Regions from separate parts of the Homo sapiens genome. Here region 2 is linked to region 1. Evidence: fine-mapped QTL for protein levels in blood plasma. A gene starts in region 1. The other region holds a variant in brackets. All regions are shown on one strand. Distances are from middle to middle. Region 1 holds the start of ASAH1 (N-acylsphingosine amidohydrolase 1). Region 2 overlaps ASAH1 (N-acylsphingosine amidohydrolase 1).

Region 1 (2,836 bases):
GTTACATTAGTGTTGAGACTCTTTGGATCCGTTTCGTGGGTACCGAGGACGCCTGGGTACGCGGGACAGGCTGCACCCGCCTGCTAGAGGCGCCCCATCGAGGCGCCACGGGTGAAGCTCCCGGCCCCACCTACGGGGCGGGGCTCCGGCTCGGTCCGACTATTGCCCGCGGTGGGGGAGGGGGATGGATCACGCCACGCGCCAAAGGCGATCGCGACTCTCCTTCTGCAGGTAGCCTGGAAGGCTCTCTCTCTTTCTCTACGCCACCCTTTTCGTGGCACTGAAAAGCCCCGTCCTCTCCTCCCAGTCCCGCCTCCTCCGAGCGTTCCCCCTACTGCCTGGAATGGTGCGGTCCCAGGTCGCGGGTCACGCGGCGGAGGGGGCGTGGCCTGCCCCCGGCCCAGCCGGCTCTTCTTTGCCTCTGCTGGAGTCCGGGGAGTGGCGTTGGCTGCTAGAGCGATGCCGGGCCGGAGTTGCGTCGCCTTAGTCCTCCTGGCTGCCGCCGTCAGCTGTGCCGTCGCGCAGCACGCGCCGCCGGTGAGTGAGCTTGAGCCGAGGCGCAGAGAGGGGCGTGCAGGTGCGGGCGCGGATGGAGGCGCAGGTGTGGCGGCGCGAGCGGGTACAAGGAACACCTCGTGCTGGGCAGCTTCTTTACGGGGGTCTGTGGTTTCGTGCACAGGGGTGTGGGTGCAGAGCGGGCTGGCGAACCCCGTCCTCGGTAGATTCGGTGCTACCTGCAACTAGAACTCCTTTAAAGGAAATCCTAGTCTCTGCAGGATACCTGGGTGTGATTCGCACATTCTTAGATTTGAGTGAGTGTACTTGAATAACCAGTTCCAGGCCCTTGCATTTTGAAGTGTTTAAATAAAATGTTCCGGTGGACCTGTGTGCATTACTCAATCAAGGACAGACTGCCTGATGGTCAGGTGCTTTCTCCCGAAGAAGTTCAGGAGTTCAGCCCAGGATACTGCAGGGCCGTGGGAAACGCTGAGTGGTCCCAAGCTTGGGCGGTGCGAGCAGCCCAGAGCAGGCCCCAAAGGGCCCCCTGTGGCCTTTTGCACCCAAGTCATGGGATCGCCTGTCCCGTGGCTCTTTCCCACGAGCAAGTCACAGGGCTACGGACTTCCTAACTGCAAGAGACAGTGAGGGACGAGCGTGACTCTTTCATTTTACAGAAGAGGAAGTAGACCTAGAGTGAGAAAATATTTAGCCAGAGGTTACACTGTTGTTTACTGAACATGCGTAACGTCCGAGCCTCTTGACGCCCAGTACTCTTTCATAATTCATTTCTTTATAAAGCAATCAGACTGCGTTTGTCTTTGCCAACAGAATCGGATAAGTAGGAACCTGGCGCATCTGGCCTGAGGCTAGATGGTGATGGTCTTGAATAGTTTAGGTAGGTTATTGAAAGTGGAAGCAAGATGTGCATTGTCTTCTTTTATACCTGTAAGGAGAAATTCTTTAAAATCATGGTGGGATATGATTTAGCCATTAAAATTGATATAATGTTCAGCAGATAAAAGTAGAATCCAGAATAGTATATACAGTTTTTCCTGTAATAGGAAAATACACAGAACATGTATGTGGACACGATTAAAGGCCTTAAAATAAAATTGCTCCATTGTGGGTAGGGAATTAATTTGCTTGACGGTAGTTGGTTTTATGGGAATTGGGAGAGACTTTGATACTTTGATACTGTCAGGGCCCTTCATTGAAAGACCACCAGGAACACACCATAAGCTGAACAAATTGGGTTTAGTGTTCTTTGAGGCAAAGGAGACCACACACCATGAGCGACGGACGGTAGGTTATAGAAAAAAACCCATTACAGAATTTGAACTTCGGTTGCATGATTTGGGGTAAGACTGAGGAACCGGGCTTTGCTGTAGATAGAATGCTGTTAGAAGGTGGGGCAATTCTGACTGAGTAAAGAAGGAACAGCCATTCTGTTTAGCACGAGAAGGGGATGTTTGGTGTTTTGTGCGTTGCAGGTGCCCTTGTTTTTGTCTGTTCTTAGAGAAAATCTTCAAGTGGCATTGCTTTGTCTTGGTGTGTCATGTCTCAGAATAATCTTATCCGACGTAGGTATCTGTGGGATTGTTGATGTCCAGGAGGAAAACAGAGCTTACCTGGCTGTGAGTGTCAGATCGGCTTGTAATAATATTGAGAGATAGCTGTGGGACTCAGAGCAGTTTCAGGTGTTGGAGGCTGTTTTTTCTTCTTTCTCAATAGCTTTATTTATTCTAGCAAAAGTATTTTGATAGCTATTTTCAGAAGAAGAATTAACAACCTCTCAATGGATATAATAGTTCTTATCTAGAACAGCGATTATCAAAGTCTAGTCTGGCCACTGGTGTCACTTTGGGAAGCTGTTTTCACAGGTTTTCAATGAAACTGGAAAAATAAGAATGCAAAACTAAAATTATTAATTTAGAATGTTAATCTTTACTCTGATTGTATGGACTTCAAGTTTTCATTGTTGCAAACGTGTTCTTAAAAATAACGGCAGAGGTAGATGTTATGTGCATGGAATTTGTTTTGTTTTAACATCTCCATTTGGCAGAATAAAAATTTGGACCCTCCTGTGCCAAGGCCTCATTAATTTTTTTTTACTGGCCTGGAAAATCCTGGGATCCATGCACTGAAGGACCTTTAGAACCTTACAGAAGTTTAGTGACTTCATTCTCTGAGAAGAATAAGCAGTTTTTCAACTGGAGTCATTATATGATAAACTATAGCCTCATGGTAACAAAAGATATTTCAAAAGTACTTTCAATAAATATGAATAATGAGAAGCAGCTTTAAATTGGAAACAAGTCATTTGATTTAGAACATC
Region 2 (2,948 bases), 16 kb after region 1:
GCTATCCTTTATGTTCATACTTACCGGACTTCCTCAAAACAAAAAAATGCTGGCAGGAGCAAAAGAGGATGAGGCCCCCACGTTCCCCGTATGCCTTAATCTCCCCTCTACTCTGAATGTTATCAGGGAGGGCAACATTGCAGAGAGTTTTTGTGCCACGCCTTGGAATCGGACAATACTGGGTTTTAAGGCTGGATCAGTCACATACTAGCCTTGTGTCCTAGGGAAAGTTTCTTAACCTATGAAACCTCAGTTTTCTCATCAGGGAGAATAATAATTACTAATATATATTTCATATGGTGGTTGTAAGGGTTAAATGACATACTGTGTATAAAGCATAGTGCTTGGATGTAATAAGTGTTTAATAAATACCCATTACGTCACATTTGTTTGTTAAATGGCTGGAACATTCCACTTGGGGAATGCTTTGAGTTCCTAGGGAGAAAAAAAATATGTTTAGGTGACATTACATGTAATTACCAAGTTGGTTAAAAAAGTGAGATTCGTGAATTTTAAGCAGATTATCTCAGCAAAAGGCCGTGAACTTAAGTTGTGATCTGGATGTTAGTAGTTGCCATTGAGAATAAATATATGATGTCCACCACTGAATTTGCTCAATGTCTCTGGTTTGCTAAAAGAATGCAGTTACTTCATCTTAGCTGAAGATCAGCCATTAACCATGACACAGGGCTATGGATAGAATAGTGCAGGTTTATCTCTGTGAGTGTGGGAAGGAAATGGTAAGAACGGTATATGCCAGTGGCTAGAGGGTGAATTCGTGCAGAGAGATAAGGAGTGCTTGTTATGATGTTTTTGTGGTGTGGGTCAGGTTAGGTCATCCAAGTGGAATTACTCTCGTTCCTGCCTTCTCTGGAGAATGATGGAAAAATAAGGCAGGAAAAACAATCTGAGAATCTGGTCTCTGTATAGGGGCCCAATATTCAGTATTACATAGAATCTTTTTATAACTACATGATGTAAAAATGCTTTAAAAAATAATTCCTATCACTTATTATGATAGCAGTATCTAGAAAAAATTATATGTCCAAGAACTAGATTTCAAAGCATGCTTTTATTATATTTGTTTATATTATATTATATATTTTTTATTGTTATTATGTTAAATGCTTTTATTAATATATTTGTTTTCCAGCCTGGCCTACTTGGCAACTTTCCTGGCCCTTTTGAAGAGGAAATGAAGGGTATTGCCGCTGTTACTGA[T/A]ATACCTTTAGGTAAAGTTCACTTAGAAGCTTTAAAAAAAAAAGTAATTAAATTCTTTTACAAGTTTCCATTGAGGTGTGATATACATACAGCACAGGTGCTGTATGTCTTAGATATACAGCACAGGTGCACAGGTCTTAGATATACAGCTCAGTGAAGCTTCAGAAATGCATGCATGCATGTAGCCATGACTCAGATCAAGATACGGAAGAGCCCAGCACTCCACGATGCTCCATCATGCCCCTTTGCAGAAAATACTGCCTCCTCCAGTAAACACTATTCTGATGTCACTATAGATTAGTTTTGCCTCTTCGTGAACTTTGTATAAATAGAACTGAACAATATGAACTGTCCTGTGTGATTTCTTGTATTTCATTATGGGTGGTGTGCTATTGTATCAACAGGGTATTTGGGTGGTTTTCAGATTTGTGATATTAACAATAAAGGAATTATAAATATTGTAGTACATTTTGGGGGTGTCTGGGTACTCATTTTCTGGATATATACCTAGGAAGTGAACTGTTGTGTTATAGAGTAATTGTGTGTTTAGCCTTATAGATTCTGCCAAACAGTTTTCCAAAGTGATTCCAGCAGTTGACAATCAGCAGAGTATGAGAGTTTCAGTTTTCTCCTCTTGATAATTCTCCTCTCGATAGTGTCAGTCTTTTTTTTTCCTTTTTTTTTGTTAGTGTCAATCTTTATTTGAGCCTTTTTGTTGAGTGTCGCAGTATCGCATTTTAGTTTCAATTTGCATTTCCTTGATGATTAATGAGATTGAACAGTTTATTGACTTTTTTTTTTTTTTTTTGGTTTTCTTTGTTTCTTTTGGAGAAGGGCTTGTGAAGGTCTTTTGCCCTTTTAAAAATTAGATTGAAGGAATTTTTTACATACTTTGAATATAAGCCCTTTGTCAGATATATGGATTCTGAATATCTGCTCCCAGTCTATGACCTTCATTTTTATTCTCTTACTTTTGTCTTTTGATGAACAGAAATTTTTAATTTTAGTGAAGTCTAATATCTCAGTCTTCTCTTTTATGAGTAGTGCCTTTTGTATCCATTTAAGGAATCTTGGCCTACCCCAAAGTCATATATATATGCTTATATATTTTCTTCTAGATGTTTAATGTTTACTTTTTACATTTAGGCCTATCATCTATTTTGAATTATTTTTGTATATGCTATGACTTATGGGTCAAGCTTCAGGTTTTTCTCATGTGGTATATCCAGTTAGTTAAACAGCATCAATTCAAAAGGCTATCCTTTCCTCAGCAAATTGCAGTGGTGTCTTTGATATAAATATACAATACATATATATATACACACACACACACACACACACACACACAATGTGTATCTGTATATACAATCAGGTGATTGTATATATGTTGTTTTGTTTGGGGAATTAAGTTTCATTTACATATTTGTCTTTTTGTCTTCCCTTATATCAATACTATTTCACCTCAGTTACTAAAGCTTTATAGTAAGTCTTCAAATTAGGTGGTATAATTCTTCCAACTTTGTTTTTCTCAATATTTATTTAAGTTACTGATTTCTCTGAGCAGTATCTTTTATTTTCAGGGAGAAGACCTCACATGCCATTCGTTAAAATTATTCTTAGATATTGATGGTTTGGGAAGCTATTTTTAAAATTTCAATTTAAGCTTTATGGCATGTAACGAAAAATATTTTCCCCACGACCCCAAAAGTTTTATCTTTAAGCTAGCA

Evidence for each region. PIP is the chance, under the fine-mapping model, that this variant and not a neighbour inherited with it causes the effect. Protein levels are from antibody-based Olink assays in UK Biobank. Linkage for the fine-mapping came from a reference panel and not from the study's own genotypes, which makes the PIPs less certain.
Region 2: its variant is fine-mapped to the plasma level of the ASAH1 protein (UK Biobank, PIP above 0.99). The variant lies in the coding sequence of ASAH1. If it changes the protein, the assay may bind it differently, which can mimic a change of level.

What each region holds. Positions count from the first base shown.
Region 1 is chr8:18,081,682-18,084,517 of GRCh38, reverse strand. It overlaps ASAH1 (N-acylsphingosine amidohydrolase 1), which reads left to right and starts at 411. Exons shown (of 14, transcript NM_177924.5): 1 at 411-537. The coding sequence starts at 460. RefSeq lists enhancers at 1-44, 845-954 and a silencer at 295-494.
Region 2 is chr8:18,065,504-18,068,451 of GRCh38, reverse strand. It overlaps ASAH1 (N-acylsphingosine amidohydrolase 1), which reads left to right. Exons shown (of 14, transcript NM_177924.5): 5 at 1,154-1,232. Among named protein-coding and RNA genes, the nearest start is that of ASAH1, 17 kb to the left of the region's middle. The variant T/A (reference allele first, on the strand shown) is at 1,222.